Linked DNA regions of Homo sapiens: regions 1, 2 and 3 are each reported to be linked to region 4. Evidence: microRNA targets listed by miRTarBase, many of them from high-throughput screens and not tested one by one. Region 4 holds a microRNA gene; each other region holds the end of a gene's coding sequence.

Region 1 (3,184 bases), not on the chromosome of region 4:
AGCCGTATGAATGCAGTGACTGTGGAAGAGCCTTTGGTCATATTTCATCCCTTATTAAACATCAAAGAACTCATACTGGAGAAAAGCCCTATGAATGCAGTGAATGTGGGAGAGCCTTCAGCCAGAGTTCGTCTCTTGTTCTGCACTATAGATTTCACACTGGAGAGAAACCCTACAAATGTAATGAATGTGGACGAGCCTTTGGTCACACTTCATCCCTTATTAAGCATCAGAGGACTCATACTGGAGAAAAGCCCTATGAATGCCGGGAATGTGGGAGAACCTTCAGCCAGAGCTCATCACTCATTGTGCATTACAGATTTCATACTGGAGAGAAACCTTACAAATGTAATAAATGTGGGAGAGCCTTCAGCCAGAGTTCATCTCTCACTCAACATTACAGATTTCACACTGGAGAGAAACCCTACAAATGTAATGAGTGTGGAAGGGCCTTTGCTCATACTGCATCCCTTATTAAACATCAGAGAAGTCATGCTGGAAAAAAAACCCTATAAATTCAGTGAATATAGAAGGGCTTTCAGCTGGAGTGCAGACATCACTGGAACTTAAAGAATTCATATCAGAGAGAGATCCTAAAGGTGTAATGTATGTGGGAAGACCACATCTTGTTCCACATCAGGCAATAATTACTAAAGAGAATCCCTGTCAATGTCAAGAGGGGGTGGGCTTCCCCTCTCTTACCAAACATGGGAGAATCCATACTAGTGAGAAACCACGTGAATGTAATGAATGTGGGAACGCTTTGATCAGAGGATGCATATTATTCAGCATCAGACAGCCGACACTGGGGAGGAGCCTTATCAATGCAGTGAGTGTGGCAAGCCTTCAGTTACATACTGATTCTTTAAGAAAATCAGATAACTTGTACTGGAGAGAAATCCTACAAGTGTGGTAAGTATGGAAAAATCTTCAGTTGTATCTCTTCCTTTACTAAGCATCAAGAACACATACTAGAGAGAGGCCCTATGAAAGCAGGAAATAGAGGAAGGCCTTCAGTCAGGGCTCATCCCTTATTAAGCATCAGAAAATTCATACCTGAGAAAAACCTGTGAATGTGGGTAATGTGGGAGAGCCTTCAGCCAAACCTCATTGCTTTATAAACCCCTTAGAACTCTCCCTACTAGCTGGAAACTCTGGTGACGTGATGAATGTGGGAAGGGCTTTGGTGGATGTTCCACCAAAACACGTTAGAGAATTTGTACATTAGAGAATTTGTGCTAGAGCAACTCTTCAAATTTAGTGAAACTGGGAAAACCCATTAGTAGAGTTCAAGCTTCAGTATTCATCTCAAAGAGAAACCTTGGGAACATGATGAATGTGAGGAAAGTTCCTTTCCAACTTGAGATGTATAAAACTAGAGCTGAAAAGAAGCTGAGAAATCACCTTGTCTGGTGATTTTCTGCCTGGTGGGGCCATTTGTATAACGACACTTGTGCATTGCCTCCTCATGCTGTTACTGACGGGGCAGGGTGTCATGCATGGGTGCAGAGGATGGAGGCTGAGAAAGGTAGACAGCTACCCATGATCTAGCCCAGTCGTATTTTAGAGCTAATAAAACTGATGTTCAGAAAGTGACATGCCTTGGCCTATAGTCCTAACTGGGCTGGGCCTCTTTCCTGTGGTTCACAGCTGTAGTATGGAGATTAATAGACTGGATCTTTGCAGTACAACACCTCTATGCACTTCTTTCTCTGTAGCACATGTTACCTTTCTTTGTGAGGCAATGGAGTGGTCTAGGATTGAGCAAAAAGCAATTTTTGTTACATCTTTATGCTAATAGATTTGGAATTTTTGAAATGAAATGAAACCTTGTTTAAACATTAAAATTACTAAAATAGGCTGGGCGCGGTGGCTCACGCCTGTAACCTCAGCACTTTGGGAGGCCGAGGCGGACAGATCACGAGGTCAGGAGTTCGAGACCATCCTGGCTAACACAGTGAAACCCTGTCTCTCCTAAAAATACAAAAAAATTAGCCAGGCATGGTGGCGGGCGCCTGTAGTCCCAGCTACTTGGAAGGCTGAGACAGGAGAATGGCGTGAATCGGGGAGGCAGAGCTTGCAGTCAGCCGAGATCACGCCACTGCACTCCAGCCTGGGAGACAGAGTGAGACTCCGTCTCAGAAAAAAAAAAAAAAAACAACTAAAATATGGGTATTATGCACAATCCAGATCTCAAAAACGTGATTCTAAGTGAAAGAAGGCAGATGCCAGAGACCAGGTATTTTCTAGTACCATTTTAGGAAATGTCCAGAAATGGCAGATCTTCAGAAACAAAGTAACTGCAAATGTTACAAGGAATCTTTTTAGGGTGACGAAAATGTTCTAAAACTAGATGGTGGTGATGGTTGAACGATTTGGTAACTTCACTAAAAATCATTGAATTGTTCACTTTATATGGGCAGATTTTATGGTAAATATACCTCAATAAAATCATTTTTCAAAATCAAATTTACACATATACCAACCATTGCTAAACAAGTATTCCTGTTTTGTTTGTTACTTCAAGCCATCTATGCATTTTTGGTATCACTTTTTATTTTCTGTAACAGTTACCCCTACATTTACTGGGTCTCAGAACCTTGTCAGGCTCTGCTTTAAAGTTCCTACCATGTTGGCTCTGTAACTCAGGTGGAGAAGCCTAGACCAGGAGCTGGCGTAGACCAAAGGATACTTGCCTAATAAGGATTAGCTTATACTGAGGAAAATACTTTAAGCATTTAAAGTCCAGATGAGGAAGTTGAGCCCAGAATTCAGGGAACCAGCTCAAAGTGGGCCCATGCAGACAGGCTGGGTCTAAGAGTCCACAAGGTTGGCCAGGGCAGGTAGGATGCACAGGAGGCATCTGGATCTGGAAGTACTTGGACAGCTGAGGTCAAGATCACACAGAAATTTATTCCTGGACAGCCAAGGTTTACAGGAGCAGAAATAGCAAATATTTTCTTGCTCCGTCTCTCCCTTTTTTCCCAGTGCCCTTTTCTGTACCTACCCAGATCACTTTATACCTAGACATCTGTCACAATTTTGTAACTGGTCTTCGTCCAAAATCTGTCTCCTCTTCTCATGTATCCTTGCCATATTAACCATACTTACCAGTTTGAACCCAGTGTCCTGCCCTCCAAAAATCCTTTGCACGGCCTACAAGATAAATCCTCACCCCCCGTGT
Region 2 (3,184 bases), not on the chromosome of region 4:
GACCAGCTCCTTCACCTCTGCACACTCCTGGCTGGCCCCTCCATTCCACCCCTGCATTCTGTAGCATGGCCTTTCCTCCCTGCAGACTCATCTGGCCCTCTCCACGTGCATTTCCTCAGTGGGGTGGGGAATTGAGAGGATCTGACGCTGATTTCTTCCTCTCTCTTCCCTCAACTCTCAGATTCCCTCCCAGGCTGTCCCTCGCCGCCTTGCTACAGCCCCCAAGACTGAAAAACCTCCCGCACGGAAGAAAAGTGGGCACCCTGCCCCGAGTAGCATGAGGAGCCGGGGGGGAGTCTGGAGATGAGCCCCCCTACCCTCTCTCCTCTTTGTTCTCTCATTGTTGTTATTTTAATAAATGCTCATTAGTCTGTATCAGAGTCTCTGGCTCATAGGAATTTGGAAAATAGAGGTTTTGTAGGGAATCACTTCGTAAAGAAACCACATTTGGTTGAGTACTTTTTTTATATGTTACATGTTTATATGTCATTTCCTGTGGGAAAAGACATGAATGCTTTGGAAGACGGTCTATGACAAGATTTGGAAAGTTGGGGCGGCTAAGATTCAGTGGACAAAGCTAAAACCTGCAGAGCAATGAACTCTGGGTGGTAGTGGAATTATGGGTGATTCTTAGTTTTTTAATACGTTTCTGTATTTTCCAAATTTTCTAAAACAAGTATATGTTACTTTAATAATCAGAACAGACCCAAACTTTAATAAGAGTAAGTTATTGTATAAAGAGTTTGAGTTAAAATTTGGTTGTTGGGGAGAAAGTTTTCTAAGGGAAAATAATTCTTTCAGGTTGCATTTGTAGGATTCAGATTGGCAGATTCTACTCCAGCCAGCAGACATATTGTTGCTATAGTCTTCACGCTTACAGCTTTAAAACGTGTAAAAGACTAGAGTGCTGGGTCCTAATTAAACAAAAGAGTTTCTGCACAGCAAAAGAGACTGTCGACAGAGTAAACAGACAGCCTACAGAATGGGAGAAAATATTCTCAAACTATGCATTTGACAAAGGTCTAACATCCAGAATCTATTAGGAACTTAAATCAACAAACAAAAAACAAATACCTCCATTAAAAAATGGGCAGAGGACCTGAACAGACACTTCGCAAAAGAAGACATGCAAGCAGCCAACAAACATTTGAAAAAATGCTCGTTAATAATCATCAGAGAAATGCAAATCAATTTAATGCAAAACCCCACAATGAGATACCATCTCATACCTATCAGAATGACTATTATTAAAAAGTCAAAAAACAACATGCTGGCGAGGCTGCAGAGAAAAGGGAATGCTTATATAGCTGTCAGTGGGAATGTAAGTTCCGCCACTATGGAAAGCAGTTTAGAGATTTCTCATAAAACTTAAGAGTTACCATTTCACCCAGCGATCACATCACTGGATATATACCCAAAGGAAAATAGGTCATTATTCCAACAAGATACATGCATTTATATGTTCATTACCACACTGTTCTTAATAGCAAAGACATAGAATCAACCTAGATGCCCATCAGGGGTGGATTGGATAAAGAAAATGTACATATACACCATGGAATACCACACAGCCATGAAAAAGAATGAAATAATGTCCTTTGTAGCAACATGGATGGAGCTGAAGGCTATAATCTTAATTAAGCGCGTTAGTGCAGGAACAGAAAACCTCATACTACATGTTCTCCTAAGTGGGAGTAAACATTGAGCACATGTGAACATAGACTTGGGAACAACAGATACTGCAGACTCCCAGAGCAGGGAGGGAGGGAGGGAGGGGGACGCGGGTTGAAACACTACCTAATGGTACTATGCTCACTACCTAGGTGCAATATACCCACGTAACAAACCTGCACATGTATGCCCTGCATCTAAAATAAAAGTTGAAATTGAGGCTGGGTGTGGTGGCTCACACTGTAATCCCAGCACTTTGGAAGGCCGAGGCAGACAGATCACTTGAGGCCAAGAGTTCGAGACCAGCCCGGCCAACATGGTGAAACACTGTCTCTATTAAAAAATACAAAACATTAGCCGGGCATGGTAGTGGGCACCTGTAATCCCAGCTACTTGGGAGGCTGAGGAAGGAGAATCACTTGAACTTGAGAGGCAGAGGTTGCAGTAAGCCAAGATTGTGCCACTGCACTCCAGACTGGGTGACAGAGCAAGGCTCTGTCTGAAAAAAAAAAAAAAAGAGAGTTGAAATTGAAAAAAAATAGACTGCTGGCAAGAAAACTAAACCATGTTTATAAAACTTCCATTTAAATGCTCACTAAAATGGACAAAGAAAAACAATACTAGGGAAGAAAATAACGTAGACATGAAATTTAAAAAGGCCCCAAATTCATGGTACAAACACTGAAAAGCACTCAGTCAAACTGAAACTGGAAGAGGATATCCTACCTTGAGACTCACACGCAGCTCTCAGCTCTGGCACATGGTGCAGGGTAGTGGTGATGGCAGGTACAATTCTGAAAGTGGTGTTGGCAGGTAAGAGGTGGGTGTTTGAGGGACAGAGTTTACCAGATTCTGAGAAGAAGGCAGGGCCCTTCTATCTGACCCTGAGTTATACACATGATAGGATGTGGATTCATAGAGTGTTTTGTACTAATGTTTGCATTTTACTTCCACCTAAGTAACTTTCTAGCCCCCAGGGGACGGGCAAAGGAAGAAAAGGTGAAGATGAATGACCAGACATGTGGGTTGCCCTGCTCAGCTGTGTCAGAACGGCTTGATCCTCAGCCCCGCACAGGACCACTCTCTGGCATGCACCAGCGGAGAAACTGGAGGCACACTGGCGCAGGAGCAGCCCCAGGCTTGAGGGCTTTTCCAGCCCTGTCTGTTTACCCACGTATGGAAATGTTTACTTTTCTATTTTTTACCTTAAATATGTAACACTGGTTTGACCAAACTCTCAGATTCATGGCACACTATCATCATTGGTAGGTGATGGTTTGCTACGGTTTTTAATAGCTGGTAAAGTGAACACCCAGTTCATTCTCCTCATTATCTCCTGGATTCCCGCCTACCGCCATCAGTCAGTATGCCCTACATTTTTCTTGACGTGAAGCACAGCCTGGAGAATATTCCCTGAAACAGCTCTTTAAACGCAATCCAAAAAAGGCATCATGCTGACTTAACCATGTTATGAGGTGAGTAAAACAACGTTGATTTTTAAAACTGTATATAT
Region 3 (3,184 bases), not on the chromosome of region 4:
TATACTTAGTATAATGTTTTAAAAAGTCTCATTAATGGTATAGCATGCATCAAGACTTTATTATTTTTATTGCCAAATAATATTCTAAAACATATTGTTTATTCATTTATCAGTGATGAACTGTAGTTTTCTCTCCAGTTTTGGTTAAGATGTTATCAACATGCATGTATTAATTTTGTATAGACCTATTGCCATTTGTGTCTGGTATATTACTAGAGGTAGAATTGCTGGGTCATATTGTAACTCTGTTTAAACTTTAATAAACTGGCAGATTGTTTCAAAGTGCCTGAATAATTTTTGATACACACAAGCAAAGTATGAAGATTCCAAATTCTCCATATCCTTGCCAACACTTTTAATTACTTATCTTTTTGATAATAGCCATGTTAGTGAGGGTGAAGTGGTATCTCATTGTGGTTTTTACTTAAATTTTCCTGTAATAATGTTGAACTTAATGATGCAGAGCATTTTTTCATTTGTTCTTATTGGACATTACATTTGCTCATTTGTCCTCATTGGACATTTACATATTCCTTAGAGAAATGCCTGTTCAGATCTTATGCACATTTTTGGATTGGGTCATTTTTTTTTTATCATTGAGCTGTAAGCTTTCTTTATAAATTTCTTACACAAGTCATTTACCATGTATGTAATTTGCAACTATATCCTCCAAAGTCTGGTTTCTCTTCAGACTTTAGTGCTGGTGTTTGGATGTACAAAAATTTTGATTTCAGTGAAGTCCAATTTATCAATTTTAATTTGATTGCTTCTGCTTTTGGTGTCATATCTAAAAACCTTGCAAAATTCAGGGTTAGAAAGAAAGCTATACCCATATTCTTCCTGCTGAGAGTTTTATAGTTCTTGATCTTACATTTAGTTTTTTTTTAATCTATTTTGAGTCCATTTTTATATATGACTTGAGGTAAGGGGTTCAATTTTATTCTTTTGAATACTGATAATCAGTTTGTCCACTGGTATTTGTTAAAGATATTGTTTTTTCTCCATTGTATAGTTTTGCATTCTTGTCAAATATCAATTGACTCTATGTTTGGCTATATTTCTAGATTTTACAAACTATTAAAATTGAGTATATGCCTAGCTATATGCCTATAGCTAATGCATGCTAAGCTTAATACCTAGGTGATGGGCAGATAGGTGCAGCAAACCACCATGGCACACGTTTACTATGTAACAAACCTGCACATGTATCCTGGAACTTAAAATAACATAAAATTGAAAAAAGAAACAGTGAAAGAAAGAAGAATTTCAAAAATATCACTAAGGCAACGAATGTAATTTATCTTCTCAATTTCAAATATTGAAATTAACACTTTAGCTAGAAATGTCATTAAATTTATAAAGGGTAAAGAAAGCAAAATCTTTAATATATTTATTAAATTAATGCAAGGCTGAATCAAGTAAAAGTATTTGCCTTCAACTATGCTTTCCGTTGATAAACATTTATTATGCCATATCCTTGGTGAAGCTCTTAGTCTTTTATATACATAGCATAACAATTAATTGATAAATTAAAATTTGTGGAAGATAAAGACAAAAATAATGCAATGATATCAAATTCCAAGTAAGCATTTTTTATTTTTTGGCATAAAATTAAACTTTTGATTACAAATAGTGATTATATATTATGAACATTAGTGATTTTTAAGCATAATTAATTGATGTTTTATGTAATTATTTGTACAGTTGACTAAAAATTTTATAAAAATGATAATTATTTTCTAGATTTCTAATTGTTATATCCTCTAAATATGATCTGTTCACCTTCAACATATAACATAGAACTTTCTCCTTGAAATAAAAGAGTCGATTGATTGATTTATTAAAGACAGTACCCAAATCTTCCACTACAGGTTATATAAGAATATATGTTGAAGAAAGGCAGGCAAGTTATGCCGTGATTTTCTAGATATGCTTAATGAAAATTTTGTAGACATTTAATAGGGACGCACGTCACACTTAAAATTCATTCTCTAACTCCTGAAACATTGAGCAAGCAGAAGAGTTTGTTTTTATTAAAAAAGGAAATCATTACCTTTCTCATAACACACTACTCTCCTACGGTGGCTCCCTGATTTGTTTGGTATATGGAAATTTGTGAATTTGACTCTTCCTTACACCTATCAAATTCCATCTACACTGTATGCATTACCAGGATTCAGCATATTGTTAATCATTAATTAAGGTTAACGATAAAATAATTTGATACTATGAATAGAACATATTTAAAATTAGGTAGTATCCTTGTGTCAGAAAAGTGACAGGAAGAGGGTATAGTCAGCAGGGAGAGACAAAGGAAAAATAGAAGACTATAACTCACAAGTTAATAATAATCATGCCAAAATCTAGGCTTTATCAGTAGGCTTATCGCAGGTAGAGAAATAGAAAATTTGGAAACAGGATGGGAGACGTGTTTTTGTTAAACTCCTTTTGTCTGGAATTAATAGGACTACACTACTCAGGATTTTGCCAAACTTAAAAATATATATATTTCCTCTTTTTCTTGACCTATTCTCTTTTTTTCTTCTTTCCTATCTTACCAAATTTTTGACAGGAAAACAAACAACATTGTATGACCAAAAATATAGCCGTTGTCACACAGACCAGCAAGAACCCAATTACATCCAAAGAGTGGTACTGGAACCAGGTGAGGTCATGGGCTGCAACCCGAAGGTGCTTGGCTCCTTTGTGGCGCATGACAAACTCGATCCAGAAGACTGCTCGATCCAGGGGCTTTACAGGTTGATCATGGTGAATTCTTGATAACCTCATAGCATTCTCTTTATAACTAGAAGACAAATAAATAGGCAGAAATTAGACAATTTTTGTTTTTATTTTCATTGAAGATAAATATGTGATACACTTTTGCTCTACAAGTTTAAGGCCATAGTTACGTGGAGAAAATATAATTCTTGCATGAACTTTGTTAGTTGTATAGGATTTTAAGAGTTACAAAAAGGAAGATATGGATGAAATATATGCTTAACACAGTATGATCAAATGTAGACATAAAAAAGTAGAGTAAGCCAGTTGTAAATATAGATGTTTAGCATAATTTTTCCAAAAATAATTTTGATACTGTGTGAGCTATACTGTAGGATGGTTCCAATACCAAGATGGTACATAACCTAATACTGTGGGATAAAAATCATTTAAGACATACATA
Region 4 (3,184 bases):
ACGAGGATGAGCAAGGTTTCATAATGTCCTCCAGAGGCCAGTTTACCAAGCTGCATCAGCTCCTCCCTCCCAGCCACCCTGCCCTTCATAAAGCTCTAGTTTTGTAGGGGATGGGGTGGGATGGGGTCACACCTCAGCTGCCGGCATGAGCTAAGGGACCATATAACAGTCAGCACTGTCCATCGCTTGCTTCTCTCTCTTTCTAATTTACATACAGCTAAACACAGATTTTTAATGAATGGCTGATAAGTTTTGACAGATGTCTGCACCTGTGTAATTATCACCCCAGTCAAGGTACAGAGAGCACCTCTATCCCCTCAGAAAGTTTTTTCCATGCTGGCTGTTGTGTGCCAGTGTGCCAGGAGAGCATGGGGCAGGGGAATGATGGCCCTAAGAAAGGAAGGAGGAACAGGGGGAATCTTGAATTACATTCTTTCCCCACGTGGAGATAGATTTGTGCTAATTCCACAACGTGGAACATCCTCCTTCGTTTGCTTAGACTTCCCTGGGAGCAGTAGCCCATGTACTGGTGGCCTAGCTCAACTGTGGCTTGGTTCTGGGCCTGTAAAGCCATCTTTCCCACCTACAGATGACATTCCCTATCTTCATCATGTGCTTTTAGTCAGGTTTCCTGCGGGCCAGATGCATCTGAGAGTGTGCCCTCATTAATATGGGACTCTGTGTATGTCCAGCACATGTGGGGTTTATTCACGTACCAGTGATTATTATTCAACATCGTTCCCTTTAGTGCAGCAAGCACTTTCTGAGTGCTTACCATGTGCCACTTTCTGTGAACCTCTGCAGTTCAACAGTGGAGTCAGAGGCAGTCCTTGTTCTCAAGTAGCTCATGATCTACTGTGGGAGACAGATGGCTAGATGATAGGGTGTAGTCATATCCCATTATTTCTGATACCCCAAATCTTGATCAGAAGCCTTGATCAGAAGCTAGGAAGGCTTCTGATCAAGATTTGTGGTGTCAAGAATAACAACGATTACAGCAATAGTAGTTGCTTATTGAGTGTGTCCTGTGTCCTAGGCACAGTTCTGAGTATTCGTCTCTTACCTCATTTAATGATGATACCTCTCCCATGTTGCAGATGAGGAGACTGAGGGCCAGAATGGTTCAGTAGTGTACCCAAGGCCACACAGCTGTTAAGTGGCATGAGAAAGAAAGAAACTTTCATTTTAAGCCTCTTAGATTTTTGTGGATTGTTTGTTACTGCAGCACGAACCAGCCCATCCTCACTGATAAGAGCCCCAGTGTGCGGAGTGGATTCCTGAGCCAGTTAAAAGGTTGCTACAGCAGTGGAGGCCTGGTTGGAGGGTGGTGATAAGCCTGGAAATAAAAGGACATATGTGAGAGACAGTAATTTGATAAAGAGTAATGAAAGAGGAAGCTTTCTTTCAGGTAGCTTATTCTGTTTCATTATTGTTGTTTTCCTTTTGGGAAAGAAGTTGAATTTTCATTGTTGGCTTATGTTTTCAAGGGTGACCTCAGTATTTTATTTTATTTTATTTTTTTGAGACGGAGTCTTGCTCTGTCGCCAGGTTGGAATGCAGTGGCGTGATTTCGGCTCACTGCAACCTCCACCTCCCAGGTTCAGGCGATTCCCCAGCCTCAGCCTCCCAAGTAGCTGGGACTTTAATGTTTTTATATTGGTGATTTTGAGCAGAGACTGTATTACCATCTAAAACACTACAAGCCTAGCATGTAAGCTCCATGTCTGTTTGCTCCTCATTCTCTCCAGGGCCCCTGGCACAGTTCCGGGCCCACAGTGAGTGCTCTGTAAACTTTTAGGGATGAACAAATGAATATTTTTAAATCTGTTCATTGTTTTCACAGTTAAACTTTTCTAAGCACTTATGTAATACTGTGTTTACTTAATTTTCATTTCTCACCAACCTTTATGGAAGACTAGGTGATAACTGGTTAAATTGTAATACAGTATCATAGGTATAATCTCGAAAAGGTAAAAATCAAATGTAACGAAGCATTATAATCCAGTGACTGGAACATTTTATGCAAGCCTTTGCTCTTTATTTATCTATTTTTTTATCATACACTTCTTCCCAGTTTTTGCTTAGTCCTTGTTAGCAGTTACATTAAAATCTGTTTTAAGTTCCACCTCAGGGAATATCAAAAGTTGGTTACTTTTCTAAATGGGCCTTTAATTAAAATTTTAAAAAATTAGACCATTGTGTTAGATTTTTTAAAATGTTGGCTAAAACAGAAAAGGTTGATTTCAGTGCAGTTGGGCTGAAACTATACTTAAATAGATTAAAGTATAATCTGGCTTTTAAAAAAAACACATCTGACTGGGATGAAGTAGTTGTGGTCTTAACTGAAGCAGGTGAATGGACCATATTCGCCTTTAAGAGCCTTCTGACTCCCAGGTTTTCTGATTTTTAAAAACTTCCTATTTAGTCATATGTTTTTACTTCACTTTATGGTTTAAGTGAGCCAACCAACAAAAGTTACTCATAAAAGATAGTATTTTACTTGTAACAATTGCAGAAAAAGTGAAAAGCTTGACATTACAGGTAGAAAGGAAGTCAGTCTCTGTCCCCTGTGCGTTTCCGAGACTGTGTTTCTATTTATTTGCCCTTTGTCTGTTTCCCCTGACCAGCGTGCGTTTCTTTCTGGAGGCGCAGGGACCTCGGCTTATTTTTCTCTGTCTTTGCATTGCTTGACAGAGGGCCTGACCCAGGGTAGGCACTCCCGCTTCATGACTACATCTCATTTTTTATTTATCTTTGTTATGATAGATAGCAGATAAAGCAGTTGATTTCAGTCAGAAGCAGACCACAGCAGCAGGATTCTTTCCACGGTGCATGTTCTGGCTGAGTGTTGGTGGGCTCCACCCTAGCCGAACCTGTGTCTGCACACCTGTTGTGTCTTCCTGGGAGGCTCCCAGGCATGCTCCTGTCTGGCCAGGGTGCTTCCTCCTCGCTCTCCAGCTGGCTGAAGGGAAGCTGGGCAAGAGTGTATGTGTTTAGGCCACAGGGAGAGCACAGACTCCCAGAGCATGAACCAAGGGGCTTCCAGGCCTCAGGGACTGCCTCCTGGTCCCCCAGAGGCCACCTCACTCTTACTCCTGTCTCCAGGCTGGTGACCTCACATGGCCCCAGCCATCTCTCCACATCCTCCCCTCCCTGCTGTGGAGCCCCCACTGACAGATGCCTT

What was found. The annotated mature microRNA hsa-miR-4762-5p reads CCAAAUCUUGAUCAGAAGCCU and lies in region 4 at 915-935, shown strand. An mRNA with a match to its seed (bases 2 to 7 or 8) in the 3' UTR can be bound and repressed. Matches are read on the target gene's strand: a 7mer-m8 pairs with bases 2 to 8, a 7mer-A1 pairs with bases 2 to 7 and ends in A, and an 8mer does both.
Region 1: the mRNA of ZNF514 is a reported target of hsa-miR-4762-5p. Seed matches in the 3' UTR shown: 7mer-m8 at 1,800-1,806.
Region 2: the mRNA of CNTROB is a reported target of hsa-miR-4762-5p. Seed matches in the 3' UTR shown: 7mer-m8 at 537-543.
Region 3: miRTarBase lists UGT2A2 as a target of hsa-miR-4762-5p. Seed matches in the 3' UTR shown: 7mer-m8 at 1,855-1,861.

What each region holds. Positions count from the first base shown.
Region 1 is chr2:95,146,613-95,149,796 of GRCh38, reverse strand. It overlaps ZNF514 (zinc finger protein 514), which reads left to right. Exons shown (of 5, transcript NM_032788.3): 5 at 1-3,184. The coding sequence ends at 515. Among named protein-coding and RNA genes, the nearest start is that of ZNF514, 12 kb to the left of the region's middle.
Region 2 is chr17:7,949,204-7,952,387 of GRCh38, forward strand. It overlaps CNTROB (centrobin, centriole duplication and spindle assembly protein), which reads left to right. Exons shown (of 19, transcript NM_053051.5): 19 at 182-717. The coding sequence ends at 307. Among named protein-coding and RNA genes, the nearest start is that of CNTROB, 19 kb to the left of the region's middle.
Region 3 is chr4:69,586,846-69,590,029 of GRCh38, forward strand. UGT2A2 (UDP glucuronosyltransferase family 2 member A2) reads right to left here. Exons shown (of 6, transcript NM_001105677.2): 6 at 1,572-2,806. The coding sequence ends at 2,527. UGT2A1 (UDP glucuronosyltransferase family 2 member A1 complex locus) reads right to left here. Exons shown (of 7, transcript NM_001252275.3): 7 at 1,572-2,806. The coding sequence ends at 2,527. Among named protein-coding and RNA genes, the nearest start is that of UGT2A2, 51 kb to the right of the region's middle.
Region 4 is chr22:45,759,618-45,762,801 of GRCh38, forward strand. MIR4762 (microRNA 4762) reads left to right here and starts at 907; the gene lies at 907-981. All of the region lies in intron 9 of ATXN10 (ataxin 10), which reads left to right. RefSeq lists an enhancer at 3,034-3,184.